Homo sapiens: one gene and its partners. The protein of the gene in region 1 interacts with the protein of each later gene in a biochemical or structural test. Each region holds a gene or a part of one and is shown in the gene's direction. Other genes may lie near its edges.

Region 1 (4,744 bases):
CCGGGTTCAAGCGATTCTCCTGCCTCAACCTCCTGAGTAGCTGGGATTACAGGTGCCCGCCACCACGCCCACCTAATTTCTGTATTTTTAGTAGAGATGGGGTTTCATCATGTTGGTCAGGCTGGTCTCAAACTCCACACCTCATGATCTGTCTGCCTCGGCCTCCCAAAGTGCTGGGATTACAGGAGTGAGCCACCGTGCCTGCCTTTTTTTTTTTTTTTTTTTGAAATGGAGTCTCACTCACGCTGTCACCCAGGCTAGAGTGCAATGGGGTGATCTCGGATTACTGCAGCCTCCGTCTCCAAGGTTCAAGTGATTCTCCTGCCTCAGTCTCCCGAGTAGCTAGGATTACAGGCGTGTGCCACCACATCTGGCAAATTTTTGTACTTTTAGTAGAGACGGATTTTCACCATGTTGGCCAGGCTGGTCTCGAATTCCTAGCCTTAAATGATCCATCAGTCTCGGCCTCCCGAAGTATGGGGATTACAGGCGTGAATCACTGCGCCCAGCCTTGTTTTGTTTTATTTTTAGTGCATTGTCCAGGCTGGAGTGCAGTGGTGTGATCACAGCTTACTGCAGCCTTGAACTCCTGGGCTCAAGCAATCCTCCCACCTCAGCCTCCAAAAGTAGCTGAAACTACAGGCAGGCACCACCATGTCCAGCTAATGGAGGGTTTTAAGAAGATTTGATATGATCAGATTTATGTTTTAAGAAAATCCATTTGGAGGCCCATTATAGTAGCTTACGACTGTAATCCCAGCACTTACAGTGGGAGACCAAGGCAGGCAGAACACTTGTGGTCAAGAGTCCAAGATCAACCTACCCAGCATGGTGAAACCCTGTTGTTGTTGTTTTTTTCTTTTCCTTTTTTTTTTTTTTTTTGAGACAGAGTTTCGCTCTGGCTAAACTCGTTGCCCAGGCTAGAGTGCAATGACGTGATCTTGGCTCACCGCAACCTCCTCCTCCCGGGTTCAAGCGATTCTCCTGCCTCAGCTTCTTGAGTAGCTGGAATTATAGGTATGCACCACCACACCTGGCTATTTTTGTATTTTTAGTAGAGATGGGGTTTCTCCATGTCAGCCAGGCTGGTCTCGAACTCCCAACCTCAGGTGATGTGCCTGCCTCGGCTTCCCAAAGTGTTGGGATTACAGGCGTGAGCCACTGTGCCCGGCCAATGAAACCCTGTTTCTACTAAAATTACAAAAATTAGCCAGGAGTGGCGGTGCACGCCTATCATCCCAGCTACTCGGGAGGCTGAGGAACAAGAATCTCTTGAACCCGGGGGCGGTGAGTGGGCAGAGGTTGCAGTGAGCCGAGATGGAGCCACTGCACTCTAGCCTGGGTGACAGAGCCAGACTCTGACTCAAAAAAAAAAAAAAAAAAAAAAAGAGAAAAAGAAAAAAATTAAGAAAAGATAATCCATTTGGCTCTTGTGGAGAGAGCAGAATCAGGAGACTAGGAGGTAGATGACTGCTCTAGTCCAGGTTCATTGCAGAGGAGGAGGAGAGAAGGGGGCCAAATCAGTATCTCTATGGTGGGTCTGTGTGCACAATAGATGTGCTCAAATGCAGATTCCTGGGCCCCACCCTCAGAGAGTTTCTGAAACCAGCAAAATCTCGCAGAAAAGAGAACAGAAAAAAGAAAGAAATCATTAGCTTTCTTGGTCATTGGTGATTGAAAAACCAATATTACCTTCAGGAATGGCTGGATGTAGGTGCTCAAACCATTCCATCAGGAAACTCTCCATCTCTTGGCTCTGTACTCCCACATGTGGGCTTCCTTCTAGACAAGCCCTCATGTAGCAAGGTTGCCATCTAGCAGATCTCAGCTTACATTCTATGAGCTTAGCAATTCTTACAGGAAAAGAGTGAAAATTCCAAGGGCTAACTCACTGGAGCAACTTGGGTTACATACTGCCCCGGTTGCTGCACATGGAAGGAAATCTAGCCTTTGTAGGATAAAAAGGAAATAGATATTGAGAAACTGAAATACCAATGCCAATTACAGTAAATCTGGCAGAGGGGCAGAGGCAGTGGCCAACACTTTGGGAAGCTGAGGCAGGAGGATCCTTTGAACCCAAGAGTTGGAGACCAGCTTGGGCAACACAATGAAACTCGTTTCTACAAAAAACTTTTTTTTTTTTTTTTTTGAGACGGAGTCTTGCTCTGTCACCCAGGCTGGACTGCAGTGGTGCGATCTTGGATCTCTGCAACCTCTGCCTCCCAGGTTCAAGCCATTCTTCTGCCTTAGCCTCCCGAGTAGCTGGGATTACAGCCGTCTGCCAACAAGCCAGGCTAACTTTAGTATTCTTTTTTCAGAGATGGGGTTTCACCATGTTGACCAGGCTGGTCTCGAACTCCTGACCTCAAGTGATCCACCCGCCTTGGCTTCCCAAAGTGCTGGGATTTCAGGCGTGAGCTACCATGCCCAGCCTTGAACAATTTTTTAAAAATCAGCTGGGCATGGTGGCTCACATCTGTAGTCCCAGCTACTCAGGAGGCTGAAGCAGGAGGATTGCTTGAGCTGGGAGGTTGAGGATGCAGTGAGCTGTGATCTTGCCACCGCACTCTAGACTGGGCAATGGAGTAAGACCCTGTCTCAAAAAAAAAAAAAAAAAATCTAGTGAAGACCAAGAATCTGCATCTAAGGCTTCCAGCTCCAAGGTTCAGACACCAGGAGATAGAGGGCTGTGCTTCCAGATGCAGTTGATAAGTGGGTAGCCTTTGTTCCCCAACTAAACCTCACCTCTACCAACAACTGCCTGCATGACCCATCCTTTCTTTGAGTCTCCATCCCTTTGTGTATAAGATGAGCTGATGACACCAACTTTGGAGGATGGCTAAGAGGACAAGAAGAACCCAGTAGAGGACCTGGAGGGAGGGAGGCCCCTCTCAGAGCCTCAGTTTCCCTTATCTATAAAACGGGTACAACATAACATGAGAAGTTGGTGCTATGGTGCATGTCCAGAGAGAGGAATGCCTCCCTTTTTATGCGGGCCCATTTCCTGGCCTGCAGGCGGCGACTGTGCCACCCTGCTGAAGAATATTGGAGCGCTGCCCGTAGAGATGGCCCGCATGTACTTTGCTGAGACGGTGCTAGCCCTGGAGTATTTGCACAACTATGGCATCGTGCACCGCGACCTCAAGCCTGACAAGTGAGCTTTGATCTTTCCCATCACTCCCTCTGTCCCTCGGGAGGCCAGGAGGCAGAATGGACGGGCCTCATCCCTGAGATCCCCACCTGTGCCTACAGCCTCCTTATCACCTCCATGGGTCACATCAAGCTCACAGATTTCGGCCTCTCCAAGATGGGGCTCATGAGCCTCACCACCAACTTATATGAAGGCCACATCGAGAAGGACGCCCGAGAGTTCCTGGACAAACAGGTGTGTGTGCGGGCATGGGGGTCGCTGAGGGTGGAGTGACCCTGCAGGACCTCGGGAACCCAGGGCCTGGTGGGGGGCACAGCTCTCCCTTGAGGGCCCTCCTCTGGCTGGGGCGTGGGCTGACAGCCTGCCCCCAGGTGTGTGGGACCCCAGAGTACATCGCGCCCGAGGTCATCCTGCGTCAAGGCTACGGCAAGCCAGTGGACTGGTGGGCTATGGGGATCATCCTCTACGAGTTCCTGGTGGGCTGTGTGCCCTTCTTCGGAGACACACCAGAGGAGCTATTTGGACAGGTCATCAGTGGTACGTGGCTTGGCAGTGTACAGGGGCAGAGTGTGGTGTGCACGGAGAGATGGACAGGCTCAGGGTTCCAGGGATTTCAAAAGCGACCCCCCAGAGGATCGCTTGCACTCAGGAGGTCAAGGCTGCAGTGAGCCATGATCGTGCCACTGCACTCCAGCTGGGTGACACAGTGAGATCCTGTGTCCAAACAACAACAACAACAAAAACCGCCCCTAAGTTCCGTTTTGTTTTGCAGATGACATCCTGTGGCCCGAGGGGGATGAGGCCCTACCTACGGAGGCCCAACTCCTCATATCCAGCCTCCTGCAGACCAACCCTCTGGTCAGGCTTGGGGCAGGTAAGTCCGCCATGCAGAGGAGCTGAGGGCCCACTGATAGAGAGCAGGCCTCCAAAACCCCAGGCCCAGCCTGTGCTGTGGCCCCGGGGCGGAAGACATGGGGGGCGGGGCTGGGCTGCTGGGTTGGCCATCAGCTGTGGCTGGAATCCCTTCCGTCCCAGGCGGCGCTTTTGAGGTGAAGCAGCACAGTTTCTTTCGAGACCTGGACTGGACAGGGCTGCTGAGGCAGAAGGCCGAGTTCATCCCCCACCTAGAGTCGGAAGATGACACTAGCTACTTTGACAGTGAGCTGGGACACCAGGCACGACCTGGGTCGAGGGGTGGGATCCGGGAAGAGGGACCCTGGGGTAAGTAAAGCCTGGGATAGGGCCTGGCTAAGTACCAAGATGTGATGCCTAGGTGCGAAGGTGGTATTTTGGTGGGGGCGGGGCCAAGTGGGGCGGGGCTGACATACAGGCGGGGCTCAGGCTGAAATGTAGGTAAGAACCTGAGATTGGGCTAGGTGTGGGGCCTGGCCTGGGTGAGTTGTGAGTGTGGGCCTGGAACTGAACTAGAGAGAGGTACTAGCGCTCAGAATGGCCTGGGGTGATGCCAGGGTGCAGAGCACTGTAGGTGGAGCGTGGCCTCTTTGGAGGCGGGGCTAGACGGTGCCACTGAGAATGGGGCAAGGACCTTGCCTGGGAGCGGAGCCTAAATTAAATACACTAATGAGGCAGGGG
Region 2 (4,744 bases), on another chromosome or scaffold:
AGGTGATACACTAGCACCATAGAGGCATTGTTGTAAACAAGGTGTGAATTGTCCAACATTCAGAGGTTAGTAGAGGAGAAGTCAAAATTGATAAACTACTATGAAATGGACAAGTACAGTCATGACATTATGAATCGCAGGGAGAGGGTGGGCGTGGAATAGGATCATAGAAAGCTGTTTCAGGAAACAGATCAACCCCCTGATTTATGAATGAGGAATTTGATCTAGGAAACAGGCCCAGAGAGGGTCAATGACTTGTCCAAAGCCACAAGTCAAGTTAGTGCAGTGCTGAGAATAGAACCTGTGTCTTTGAAATACGAAACCACTGTCTGTTCCCTATGCTATAATGTACAAGCAACAGAGAATGGGGGGGATTTTAGTAAGTCTTCCTGGCGATGGTGGTTTTAATAATTGGCAACAAAGGCTACAACTGATGCCAATCTATCTCTGGCTAGGGCCCTAGGACTGCCCTCCAGCCTGGGTTCATATGACTTGTTTCTCTGGACAGGTCTGCTCATGTCTGCTCTCACGGTTTTCATCCTGATTCTATACTTTGTGATTGACAACTTTGTGATAAATCGCAGACCATGGCTCCCTGAGTGTACTCCCATCTACATCCAGTACTTTGTCAAGTTCTTCATCATCGGCATCACTGTACTGGTGGTGGCTGTGCCAGAGGGGCTGCCTCTGGCTGTCACCATCTCACTGGCCTACTCTGTGAAGGTGAGACTAGAACAATCCTATCTCTTCCTTTAGGATAGAGATGGGAGAGAAGGGTACCATGTAACCTTTAGTGAAAAGATAAGCCATTCTATCATCTATAAACTTTGGCTGGTGCCTCACAAGAGCAGAAGTCCCTGGTATTATGGAAGGACCATCTCTGTCAGATGCATCAATGTTGAAATGACCCAGCAGAATCTTAAGAGAATGACAAAAATGGTATCTTGGATTTTTTTTTTTTTTTAAGACAGAGTCTCATTCTGTCACCCAGGCTGGAATGCAATGATGCAACCTCCGCCTCCCGGGTTCAAGTGATTCTCGTGCCTCAGCCTCCCAAGTAGCTGGGATTACAGGTGTGCACCACCATGCCCAGTTACTTTTTGTATCTTTTACAGAGACAGGGTTTCACCATGTTGGCCAGGCTGGTCTTGAACTTCTGACCTCAGGTGATCTGCCCGTCTCAGCCTCCCGAAGTACTGAAATTACAGGCATGAATCACTGCACCCAGTCAGTATCTTGGATTTTTGTGTGGGACTGGAAGATGAAATGTGGAGAGATGTTGGCTAGGAAATGGCCTTTGACCTAGATTTAGGAGAGTCCAGTTAGTCCCCCTCTCAAGTCTTTTCTCTTCTCCTTTGTAGAAAATGATGAAAGACAATAACCTAGTACGGCACTTGGATGCTTGTGAGACCATGGGCAACGCCACCGCCATCTGCTCTGATAAGACAGGCACGTTGACCATGAACCGCATGACTGTGGTACAAGCTTATATTGGGGGCATCCATTACCGTCAAATCCCAAGCCCTGATGTCTTCCTGCCCAAAGTCCTGGACCTCATTGTCAATGGCATTTCTATCAACAGTGCTTATACCTCCAAGATTCTGGTAAGCATTTCCTTTGCGTAGACACTTAGAGTGGGTGGTTGGAAGGGAACATCCATTTTCTCTGAAATGAACCCCCTTATTGTTTACACTGCCTAAATTGCCATCCCACATCCCATTTCTCACGCTGGAGTGAACATGTTTGGGTGAGACTACAGAAAAATCCCTGGGAGTCAATGGAGGGTTGGAGGTAAGGGCCTGTAAGAATCTATGGCCAGGAAATACCCTCCCAATTAGCATGTAAAAGCAATGTCTCTAAGGAGGGAAAGTAGAAAGTAACCCAAAGTAGAATTGGGCTTATCAGAAGTAAATTACTCACTTTCTAGAAACAAGCATAGTGTATTAGAATAAGACCCACACAAGGCGAGACACCAGCACTACCACTAGAGCAAACTACAAAATCCCTAAGCCCTGGATGGCACAAGGATCACGGTTACCACTGACCCCTCTCTGCCTACCCTTGAAAAACAACAGGCTAGGCATAGTGGCTCACTTCTGTAATCCCAGCACTTTGGGAAGCCAAAATGGTAAGATCGCTTGAGCCCAGGAGTTCGAGACCAGCCTGAGCAATATTGTGAGACCTCATCTCTACAAAAATAAACAAAATTAGCCAGGCATGGTTGCGCACCTGTAGTCCCAGCTACTCCAGAAGCTGAGGTGGGAGGATCACTTGAGCCTAAGAGGTCAAGTCTGCAGTGAGCTGAGATCACACCACTGCAGTCAAGCCTGGGCAACAGAGCAAGGTGCTATGTCAAAAAGAAAAAGAAAAAAGATGCCAGGTGCTGTGGCTCATGCCTGTAATCCCAACATTTTGGGAGGTTGAGGTGGGCAGATCACCTGAGGTCAGGAGTTCAAGACCAGCCTGGCCAACATGGTGAAACCCGGTCTCTACTAAAAATACAAAAATTAGCTAGGCATGGTGGCAGGTACCTGTAGTCCCTGCTACTCAGGAGGCTGAGGCAGAAGAATCACTTGAACCTGGGAGGTGGAGGTTGCAGTGAGCCAAGGTCGTGCCACTGCACTCCAGGCTGGGCAACAGAGCGAGACTCCATCTCCAAAAAAGAAAAAAAAAAATGTTATTTCCCCTATGAGCTCCAGGTATATAATGTGAAGGCTTTGTAAATGAGTTCTTTCTCCCTAAGTTCTCTGCCTTGTCAAGGCATCTTACTCAATAGTGCTGTGTATATTTCTTCTCCCAGCCTCCAGAGAAGGAGGGAGGCCTGCCTCGGCAGGTGGGCAACAAGACCGAGTGTGCTCTGCTAGGCTTTGTCACAGATCTGAAGCAGGATTATCAGGCTGTGCGTAATGAAGTGCCCGAGGAGAAGCTCTACAAGGTGTACACCTTTAACTCAGTGCGCAAGTCAATGAGCACCGTCATCAGGAATCCCAACGGTGGCTTCCGTATGTACAGCAAGGGCGCCTCTGAGATCATCTTGCGCAAGTGAGCACCCCCGACCACTCTGCTTCCCTTCAAGATCCTCTCCTCAGGAAGGCATGGGTGCACACCCCACACTGAACCCATGTGAATGAGGGAGCCCTCCAGCCAGGTGGTGACATAATAACTAATATCCAAGCGTCTACTCAGGCCACGCATGTTTTTTAAGTGCTTAAGGTGGCTTGTTGTATTTAATCCTCACAACTCAGTAAGGTGGGTACTATGATTATCCCTGTTTTACAGATGAGAAAACAGAGATATAAGGAAGTTAAGTATCTCACTCAAGGTGATACAGCTAATAGTGGCACAGCCAGGATTCAGACCTGGACGATCCTAAGTTTCCATTTCCTAATCTGAAAACAGAGATAGCCATACTCAGCTCCTAAAAGTACTACCCCCTCACTGTAACTAAATGATTCAATGTATGTAAAATGCCTTATACATAACAAGTACTAGAAACGTTTGTTCTGTGTTCTCTTTTCCTTCTCTTTCCTTCCCATTCCCATTTCTGATTACAGGGAATTTACATAACTTTAAAAGTGACTATTCGGCCAGGCGCAGTGGCTCACGCCTGTAATCCCAGCACTTTGGGAGGCCGAGGCAGGCAGAACACGAGGTCAGGAGTTCGAAACCAGCCCGACCAACATGGTGAAACCCTGTCTCTACTAAAAAAAAATACAAAAATTAGCCAGGCATGGTGGTGCGTGCCTGTAATCCCAGCTACTCAGGAGGCTGAGGCAGGAGAATCGCTTGAACCCAGAAGGCAGAGGTTGCAGTGAGCTGAGATCGCACCACTGCACTCCAGCCTGGGTGACAGAGTGAGACTCCATTACAAAAAAAAAAAAGTGACTATTAATAAATTACCCATAGTTCATCAAAAGTTGGCACTATACCTAAGTAGGGCTGAATTAACCAGTGCTCCAACATGGCTTTAGCCACCTTCTTTTAATCAGCACATTCTTGTATAGGAAACCTCCCCCAAACCACCAGCACCACACAGTGAGCACTATTCTAAATACTCGGATTGAAAAAGTCTCTCTGCCTTCAAGAAGTTCAAAAGAGCAGGTGATTCACAAATGACTTGCATTGCATTCACATATGGGTAAGAACAGATGACATGGGAGAATCCCACTCTCTATATATCTAGACCTTAACTCCATCCACAGCCCACCTACCTTGGAAAGAGGGACTCAGCTGGGTGATGAATGAAGGAAATGTTTGGCCACACTTGGAGCAATGTCTTTAGGAATAATACAGAGTTGCCAAAATACCTGTCAATGATTGTAGAAACGTATTGAGTGGGAAGGGAGACACCGCGTTCTTACTGTGCGCCTCCCCAGGTGTAATCGAATCCTGGACCGGAAAGGGGAAGCAGTGCCATTCAAGAATAAAGACAGAGATGATATGGTACGCACTGTCATCGAGCCCATGGCCTGTGATGGACTCCGGACTATCTGCATAGCTTACCGGGACTTCGATGACACAGAGCCCTCTTGGGACAATGAGAATGAGATCCTCACCGAACTGACCTGTATCGCGGTGGTGGGCATTGAGGACCCTGTGCGCCCAGAGGTGAGAGGGTGGGAAGCCACCCAGGAGTCTCAGGAAGTGGGGTACTAGTTCCCTTTCTAGTTGTGACCCCAGGCAGGTAACCTAACTGCCTCTCACTTAGAGGGATAGAAGTTTCTGTGCTTCCTGCTTCACAGGA
Region 3 (4,744 bases), on another chromosome or scaffold:
AGTCAAAGCCTTGGCCAGTTGTGGTGGTTCATGCCTGTAATCCCAGGAGTCTGAGGCCAGCCTAGGCAGCATTTTGAGACTCCAACTATACAAAAATATTTTAAAATTTTTAAAAAATTGGCCGAGTGTGGTGATGCATGCCTGTAGTCCTATCTACTCAGAAGGTTGAACCCAGGAGGTCGAACTGTGCTGCTGTATTCCAGCCTGGGTGACAGAGGAAGACCCTGTCTCTAAAAAATAAAATAAAATATCTCGGACACTAATTTGCTCTAAAGGCTGAGAATACCGATACTTTCCCACTGGACCCCACAGGTAGGTCATATTTCCCAGCTTCCCTTGAAGCTAGAGAGGCCACGTGTCTGAGTCCTGGTCAGTGATGTTGGGGAAGTGAATGTGGAACTGCTAAGCCTGGAGCCGGAGCAACCTTCCTCCTGCAGTCCCCGGAGGATGGTGGAACTCTTACACGGAAGGATATGCGTTCCTGGAGGCATGCGAGGCAGGCAGGAGCCCCACAGCTCCCCTCCACACCAATTCATCTGCACAGGAATATGGGATTGCGAATAAGAAATAAGCTTTATTGTGTTACACAACTGAGGCTTGGGAGACTGCTTGTTGCAGCTCTTCCTGTTAGGCTGCTCTGACTCATACAGCATCTTAGTGTGCTTCCTGGCAGGGCACAGGTCACGAGGCTGTGGGCACCTGACAAAATGGTATGGAGGCTGGTGCCTCTAAGAGCATCCTCCCCTAGGTCTGGTACACAAGGTCTCTGTGCCTCCACCCCATGTCTCCGCCTATAGAGGCTTTTCCCTCTCTTAGCCCCCGGGGCTCCCACTCTCCAGGCAGTCACCCTGGGACATGTGCCACAGCTGTCCTCCCCTTGGGCTCTTGTGTGCGCTGTTTCCTTTCCTTTCCTCAAAATACCTGTCTTTCCTCGGCCGGGCACGGTGGCTCACACCTGTAATCCCAGCACTTTGGGAGGCCAAGGTGGGCAGATCACGAGGTCAGGAGATCGAGACCATCCTGGCTAACACGGTGAAACCCCGTCTCTACTAAAAAAAAAAAAAATACAAAAACGATTAGCCAGGCATGGTGGCGGCTGCCTGTAGTCCCAGCTACCGGGGAGGTTGAGGCAGGAGAATGGCGTGAACCCGGGAGGCGGAGCTTGCAGTAAGCTGAGATCGCACCACTGCACTCCAGCCTGGGCGACAGTTAGAGACTCTGTCTCAAAACAACAACAACAACAACAACAACAAAAAACTTGTCTTTTCTCATGAGGCTGTTCCGTTTTGTACCTTTACACACACCAATTCCAGACACACCTTCCCCACTGCTGCCTCTACCCAGGGCTGGGCTTGGCTTCCTTTATCTGTCTAGCTGCCTTCCCTCTACTCATCTTGTGCTCACTGCCTCATCAGACTCTGAGGTGCTGGAGGGCCGGCGCTCTGCCCTCCTAGCCTAACGCAGTGTTTGGCAAATATTTGTGATTAAATTAATGAATGAAAGAGAAAGGGATTCCTTGGCACGTGTAATGCTTTTTATGACCATGGCTAGGCCAACCCTGGAATTGGCTTTCAGAGATTAACCCAGGCCCTCTACCGATGGTGTTGCTTCCTGTTGACTCCTAACGCCGATTCCTTGCCTCATCCTCCGCCTTCATCATCTTCTGCCTTGCATCCATGAGGTGTGATCAGTCACAGGGTGAACAATCATCGGCGGCCATGGCCGCCCGCAGACCTCTGGAGCAGGAGGAAAACAGGCCTCCACTTTACTTGACTCCTATCTGCTCATGGGGTCTGTGTCCGCAGAATCCTAATGTAGGGGGTGTGACCTGGAACATGAAAGGGACAGGAAGGAATAGAACTGCTGGCTCTTTGGGGCCATAATTTTAATGTGCTGACGTCCATTGTGCAGAAGAGACTTTTCCCAGCTGTCCTGGCACCACACAGTAGTCTGTGTCATCAATCGAGCCTGCTCCAGGGCAGCTGGGCACAGGTGCAAGGCCCGGTGCAGGGAGGAGCACTGAAGGGCCTGGGCTGAGCAGCTCCCAGGGTGCAGCGCTGTCCCCTTCATGGCTATGGAGTGGGGAGCAAACACCACCTACCTTCCAAAACAAACTAAAACCTTTCCAACATTCTGCCTCGGTTTTTTCCCCACCCCCTCTTAAATCATAACCAAGAAAGGACATGTATTTATATTCTGTGAGGAAAAAGCAAAGTTTTAATGGTCTTTGGTGTGGCTTTTTAAAATGATAAATGACTGTTGAGCTTGTCAAATCATGGCTAATACTGTTTTATCTGGGTGAGATCAGTAACAGCTTTTTAAGGGTTACCATGCTGTTATTTCTCTTCGTGTTGGTAATAAAGCAAAATAACTCTGTGGCTGGTACTTGTGTGATAATAGAGAAAATTAGTGAGGGGTGAAGTTTAGGGGCTTAGAAGAAGGTGAATAAATAAATGTAATTTAAACAATTCTGGGGCAGGCATCCATCCCACCTTCCTTAACATCTGCTCTAGATTCTAGTGCCCTGTAGAGTCCAAGGAGGGGAGCTGTCCTTGACTGTGAGCATAGTGGAAACCACTGGATGGAGGAAGGGTAGGCACAAGCCTGGACCTGAGAAACAAAGGCACCTATTCTGCTTTCAAATTCAGTCCTGGGAGAGCAGGTGACCTCTGTCATAGGACTGCTATAGGGCACCAGCAGTGGAGATAACCAAGTGATAAGCAAGTCTTTGGCTTTCCATTAACAGAGACCACTGGTCCCAACATGGAAAAGCGTCCCAGAAGCCTTTCCCAGTTGCTGCGTCCACCTAGCATACACACAGGATGGCTCTGATTTCATGACACTTCTGCCAACGGGAAGCTTTGGGCAATCGACAGCACAAAATGAAAGACAACATGTGTGCTTCCAGGCTAGTGGGGAGGGACGCCGTAAGCTGATGCTTCTGAGACAGAAACCGAAGGGACAAGGTGCCAGGAGCTCCTATACTAAAAACTGTTTGTAGCACATTTATGGGGATTAAGTGGTTGTGGTGAAAACAGCCTGCACGTTTAATATTGATGACGTTTTAAAAAGCAATGCACTGCAAATATCTGTTGAGAAATGAATGCCCTTTAATTGTTCACAAATGAGTATCTTAAAGAAAATACCCATAGAGAAGTCACCTGGATAGTTAAAAACATTAACTACCCAGGGTAGAGGAGAAAATTAGATTGAAACTAATTCAGATTAATTTGGCATCAACTTTAAAGAAATCAAATAAATAAATGTCCAAGTTATTAGAGTGTAAGAAAGTGTTCCAGGAACCTTTTCCACAGAGGTTCTTGATCTTCCTGTGTGGCAGTTAGTGGGAAATTATGTGACAAATTTATCACATCTCTTGTCAGCTCCTAGCATCCTTGTAAGATTGCTACAATTCCCTATCCAGTCTGTATCTAATAGAGCATACATAATGATTTTTATTTTAATTCCAACCAAGTTGAATACATTATAAAACCAAATAAAATTGTCTATTTATCAACTCCAGAGATCATTAGATAATAACAATTTATTGTTGCAGAGTTTTGTGAAAAAATTATCAAATTTTAGATCCAAACTGGTTTAGTGTAGTGTATTGCTAAGGCAAATAGGTGGCTAAGAACGTAGACTTCCTAGTTTTGTGGATGCAAGCAAATGGCTGAATTTGAGGGTTTTTGAGCTCTGGACTAGCCCAGTCCTGAGATTTCCTGGTTTTAGTGGGGAGACTTAGGTAAATAAGGCATTCAAAGTGCTTGTCCTGTTGTCTGAGATATGTAAGTAGCTGGTGATGATCATAGATGCTGACAACAGATACTGAGAAAGTTGACTCAGAGAGGCAGCTTGGGCCTGGAAATTCAGGCAAATGGCAAGCCCCTAGGGCTGAGGGAAGCGTGCTTTAGGCAGGGCACCAAGATTCCAATACTAAGGACGTGGCCAGGGTCCACTCTCTGGAGCTGGTATAAACTGGAGCTTAGTAATGAAAACTAGGGAAAGGCCCAGGGTAGAGGTCGGAGCTACCAGATTTGGCAAGATTTCTCAAGCCCCCGTGGATTCAGTTGTGATATAGAGTGAACAATCCCCCCATCCGGGTGGCTCTGGGGACAAATGAGAAACATGCAGGAACCGCTGAGCATGTGGAAGGTCCTGGGCACATGCCAGTTCCCTCCTTCTTGCTCTTTGTCACTAACTGTGGTGCCCAAGTCCTCCCCTTGCCTGGTCTAGTCTGGGGTTGCTGGATGTGGACTCACTCAGAACCCCACACTTCTTTCCAATTGCAGTCTGAGCAGAGGGACGCTGGGACAGAGCCCTGGACTTTCCTAAAACCGGGAAATCCCAGGACAGGACTAGACCAGAGCTCAGTGAGGGCTGAAGACTCAGCTGTGGGGCTGCAGGGCTTGAACTCCATCGCATGTTTTCTCATGAGCCTGGAAATCCTTCAATAAATATGAACAACAAAAGTGCCCCAAAGGTGCTGTGTTAGAAAGGCACCCATCTGGCTCATGCCTGTATTCTAGTTGAGTCAATAAGGCAAATTTACCTTATGTTGTTTGTGGGCAGTTGCAATGGTCCTATAGGCAATGAAAACATCAGATCACAGTTTGCTTGTGTTGCTGTGAGAATCTGACCTCAAAGAAAATACTCCCCCAACCCAAATCCAAATCTATGAAATGAAGACACAGCAGTTGTGGTGGGGCACTAATTATGAATGTTGAGCTTCAGGTTAGGGTTG
Region 4 (4,744 bases), on another chromosome or scaffold:
TGTATCTGAGATAGAAAGTAATCACTGCCTTCTCTTTTCTGCACAAAAATATCTGGCAGATGGTGGTTTGAGATTTTCAGGCTTTGGGATTTCTTTTTAAATCAGTCATTCCAGCCTATCTTTCTCCCCAACTTTGGTTTTCTCTTCACTGACACCACAGATTTGATCTTCAATTGGAAAGAAACCATTTAATCTATTAGTTCATCTTTTGGAAACATCTTTTTTAGGTGACAGTAACATATGAGACTGGAACTCTGTTTTATGTTACTTCCTGCCTTATTTTTCTCACTAGTTTGCAGCATATATCCGGGCGGCCGTCCGAAAAGAAAAGGGGCTCCCCATCCTTGTGGAGCTTCTGAGAATGGATAACGATAGAGTTGTTTCTTCCGTGGCAACAGCCTTGAGGAATATGGCACTAGATGTTCGCAACAAGGAGCTCATAGGTATGTTCTGGTGACAAGATGAGCTGTAAATGTGAGAGCAGCTACAAAATTCATGAAACTCTTCTTTTGATTAATAAATATATGGCTTGTAAAATCATTAACAGCTGAGCCCTAGTCTCCAGTTTCTTGGCATATTTGAGTACTCCTGTTTTGTGACCATTCTTTTTCAGCAGGAGGCAAGCTCATTAATTAGTCATTGATTAGGGAAGGTAAATTTTCAGAAAGGCCAGCAATTTTAGTTGTACCTTACAACACTAGTAGGGTTAATGTCTCTCATTTCTAAGAGAGTTCTCTATATCCTGAGCAACAAAAAATCTTAATCTCCCTTTCCAATTTTTGGACTGCTACCTGCTAATTCACCAACACTACCATACTCTAAATAAAAAATCACATGAATGTTTTGTAGCTTTCCCCTCTCACATTGGTATAAATCTTTATCCCAGAGAAGAACCACTGTCCCAACATCATTTCCACCCTGGGCAGGGGCAGGACTAGGGTGAGCTAAGCAAGGCGCCAAAGGCACAACATTTTAGGAGGCCTTTACTCTCAGGTTTGTACAAGGTAGGGTTGGCACATGCACAAACCAAACAGTGAGGACCTCTGTACGCTCCGCACCCCAGGCAGCTTGCTTGCCTCTGCGGCATTGCCACATCCTAGGCAGGATGCGGGCTAAAGAAGACATCAGGGACCCCCATAAACCTGAGCTTCGTTCCCAGGATGTGCTGCTCACTGGCCATGCAACCTGGGGTATCCTATATAACCCCGTTCAGGCTCCGTAATTCTATCTAGATTGGAAATGAAAGGCAACTCCTCATCTCTGAAGGGGAGCTGTTGATGCCTGCTGTCCTAACTGGGTTTGCTGTAAAGAGGAAATGAGAGAGCTCCATGCCAAGTCCCACAGCTGGTGACAGGTCAGGGGAGAAGGAGGGGAAATGGGACAAGATCTTATGTGGATTCATGTGAATCTATAGTAAACTTAAAATACACCTGCCATGAGAGAAGGAGAGAGAAACAAGGGCGATGATGTTTACCATAAAGAATTGCTGTAAGGATTAAACGTGATGACTTACAATGGAAGCCCTTCACACAGTGCCTGACAGAATTGCTATTTTGAATTGTTGCCCAGATTAACCTGCTCTTAACACACCATTCCTTTAAGCCAAATCATCCCCCTACGGAGAGGAAAGGAAGTTCCTCCTCACCCTGTTCATGGTCCAGCTCATGCCTGATTCTTGTAGATGTGCCATATCTCTCAGTTCCCACACTTCCTTTACAGAAATCCTTCAGGTCCCTAAAGAGAGATATTCTTTAAAGTTATTTTTCTTACGTCTGTATTGTTTGGATTTCTTATAAGAAGCATGTATAATTTGGGCATTTTTAATGCTAAAAAATAAATGGTTGACACGTATATCCTGTGGCCTGTCATATTTCACAACGCAAAGACACAGGTAGACAGGAGTCCTTGAGCTGGTACTGTGAAGTGCTAAGACCTTTGGCAAGAGGAATGTGTGTTCCAAGTCTTGGCTTCCTCTCAGTGCATTTCTGTGTTTTCTGTGAATAACCCTTTTTAACTTCCACTGGCCTTCTGCCTCTCCAGTGATGAGCTTTTTTTTTTTTTTTTTAACCTGGCTGGAGCACTCTTGAACTGTTCCATCAGTCTGTTTTTTTGTTTCCCTATTCCCGTCTTCCTGTGAGATCTGCCTCACTCTTGGATTCAGTATTTGGCTCTAATTTACCCAGTACTTCAGTTCCTAGGAACCTTCCCCTTCTCTGACCTCTTCCCTCTTTTTTCACATTCATCATCAGCACTAGCAAAGGACTTTCTTTTCAGAGCCATTTTTCACAAAGAAGCAAAGTTTTATCACTTCATAAAAGTTACTACATACTCAACTGAGTGGGACCCACCCTGCTGTCTGGAGCTGCAAGTTCTGAGGGGACCGCCAGGCTCACTCATTCATAGGCAGAGTGAGCTGCCTCGGCCTAACCCCCAGGAGTGCAATTTAAAGTTATGCCTTAGCAAAATGACAAATTACATGTCATGGGCCTTTTGGTCATTCATGAGTATTCAAAATCACCAGAGCTAACTTATCATCTGCTCTGAAAACCACATTTATCTTGTGGCCTTACAGTGTCAGCACTGTTTTTCCACTCTTCATAGCAGTGTTTGTCGTGAGCAAGCCAGAGCCTTCCCTCTGACGTGCTGTACATCACACAGCATGTAGCTGAGACCTGTCTTCTTCTGCTTACCACTGTAAATAAACAGGCCTTTATAAAAAGCGATTGCACATCCACTCAATTATTAGCATAGGGGAGAACTAAGAAGATGTTTACTTGCACTTTAGTTCATTTCTTTTGTTTGTAGTGCACTTACAGTTTGTCAGTTGGTAATCGAAGTTGAAAAAGCTAGAGGTAATCTCTTTTTGGAGAGGAATAAGAAAAATTCAGTATCTATAAAGAAATACCTCAATAACTGTGAAACTCCCCTTGCCTTGTCTTAGCAAGAATTTCATTATTATTGCATTATTCCTGGGAGATAACATACCTATAATTTTAATACCAGAACTTTTACTTGTGTCATCTTTTAAAGAAACTAACATGTTGCCACCGTTGTCAGATGAGTTGCTGTACACCTCAGCTCTATACACAAAAATGTGTAACTGTACCCAGTTCATACATTAAGATCCAGAAAGATCTAACGAAAAGTATTGTTTGGCAGCCTGACTTGGTCCAGATTCAAAGGTAAGTTTTAAAAAGCTCTAAGAGGAAATTGAGGTATTTGTGATGCATAGGAATTCCATTGAGAATAAAATTTACTATTATAATTCCTTCATTACTCAATGTTACTGAAAATACTCGAACGAAAGTAACTTGATTTGTCTACCCAATTTTACGCATTGATTTACATTTGCTTTCAGCAATTGACAGTAATGTTTTATAAATGAATCATTTCTGCAAGTGACGTTGCAATAAATGTTAGCTTTCCCCTTATAATGACATTTGTCCTTTTCTTCTTTGCCATGGGTTTTGATTTTTTCCCCTATTATTGTCTCTTTGGGGGTTTTATTTTTAAGAGATTGCATGCCACCAGAATCTGAACAACAATAACAAAAACCTAGTACCTTCTGGAAGTAGAATTTACTCTTTTGCCGTTGGCAGGCAAATACGCCATGCGAGACCTGGTCAACCGGCTCCCCGGCGGCAATGGCCCCAGTGTCTTGTCTGATGAGACCATGGCAGCCATCTGCTGTGCTCTGCACGAGGTCACCAGCAAAAACATGGAGAACGCAAAAGCCCTGGCCGACTCAGGAGGCATAGAGAAGCTGGTGAACATAACCAAAGGCAGGGGCGACAGGCAAGTCTGCGGCAAGGAGGTGCAAGCAGTGCTCTTATTCCTGAGATTGTCCTGTGATGAGGCCTTTGTTGAGGATACCTTTCCTATTGGAAAGGATTTATTTTTGCATTTCTTACATGCCGATAAGCTAAGCAGTCTCCAGCACTTACAACCTGCTATGCTGGGAGAAGTGTTTTCTGTTATGGGGCCTATTTTTGGTTTTCACTTTATTGTAACACCCTCACTCCTACATTGGTATTTGTCTCTGTCTTAGTCTGTTTGTTCTGCTGTAACAAAATGTTGTGAACTGGGTGGCTTATAAACAACAGAAATTTATTTCTCACAGTTCTAGAGGCCGGGAAATCCAAGATCAGGGCACCAACAGATTTGGTGTCTGGTGAGGGCCCCGATTCTGGTTCATAGATGGTGCCTTTCAGCTGTCCTTGCACGGTAGAAGGAGGGAGAGGTCTCAGGCCTGTTTTTATAAGGGTGCTAATGCCATTCATGAGGGCTCTACCCTCATGATCTAATCACCTCTCAAAGGCTCCACCTCCTAATACCATCACCTTGGGGGTTGGAATTTCAACATATGAACTTTGGAAGGGACACAGACCTTCAGACCATAGCAGTCCCTAAAGCCACAACTGGTCATGCCAACTCCTGGAAGAATTGGAAATGCCAGGATGAGAAAAATCTAGGGGGCACCATTTCCCTTGTGCCCTTGTCTCTCTGCTCCAGGCCTGAGTGCCTGTTCTGCAGGAACGTCTTCTTGAATCCCCAGTTCTGGAATTGAGTTTTCTGCCACATACCCAGAAAGTATTAAAATTACTGCTCTGCAGCAGGGCTGCTGTGTGGCCTCAGGATGTGCCCCAGGCTTGGATGGCGCATTTCCCTTTGCTTCTGCATGACACCTCACTGATTAAGCAGGAAGGAAGGACTAGAGAATCAGTGGTAAAAATTGAAGGCTGCT

Evidence for each region. The genes of interacting proteins can lie anywhere in the genome.
Region 2: the proteins of MAST1 (region 1) and ATP2B4 interact in a test that uses a peptide from one of them, tested with the Homo sapiens proteins (one large-scale study listed by IntAct).
Region 3: the proteins of MAST1 (region 1) and SLC22A3 interact in a test that uses a peptide from one of them, tested with the Homo sapiens proteins (one large-scale study listed by IntAct).
Region 4: the proteins of MAST1 (region 1) and PKP4 interact in a test that uses a peptide from one of them, tested with the Homo sapiens proteins (one large-scale study listed by IntAct).

The regions. Positions count from the first base shown.
Region 1 is NC_000019.10:12,861,794-12,866,537, forward strand, and holds part of MAST1 (microtubule-associated serine/threonine-protein kinase 1), read left to right. Parts: intron 1-3,015; coding exon 3,016-3,154; intron 3,155-3,252; coding exon 3,253-3,385; intron 3,386-3,522; coding exon 3,523-3,688; intron 3,689-3,923; coding exon 3,924-4,025; intron 4,026-4,186; coding exon 4,187-4,309; intron 4,310-4,744. UniProt on the Homo sapiens protein: Microtubule-associated protein essential for correct brain development. Appears to link the dystrophin/utrophin network with microtubule filaments via the syntrophins. Phosphorylation of DMD or UTRN may modulate their affinities for associated proteins.
Region 2 is NC_000001.11:203,706,501-203,711,244, forward strand, and holds part of ATP2B4 (plasma membrane calcium-transporting ATPase 4), read left to right. Parts: intron 1-508; coding exon 509-723; intron 724-1,361; coding exon 1,362-1,604; intron 1,605-2,800; coding exon 2,801-3,042; intron 3,043-4,376; coding exon 4,377-4,608; intron 4,609-4,744. UniProt on the Homo sapiens protein: Calcium/calmodulin-regulated and magnesium-dependent enzyme that catalyzes the hydrolysis of ATP coupled with the transport of calcium out of the cell. By regulating sperm cell calcium homeostasis, may play a role in sperm motility.
Region 3 is NC_000006.12:160,354,547-160,359,290, forward strand, and holds part of SLC22A3 (solute carrier family 22 member 3), read left to right. Parts: intron 1-4,744.
Region 4 is NC_000002.12:158,666,121-158,670,864, forward strand, and holds part of PKP4 (plakophilin-4), read left to right. Parts: intron 1-292; coding exon 293-443; coding exon of another isoform or gene 444-457; exon of another isoform or gene 458-544; intron 545-3,599; coding exon 3,600-3,795; intron 3,796-4,744. UniProt on the Homo sapiens protein: Plays a role as a regulator of Rho activity during cytokinesis. May play a role in junctional plaques.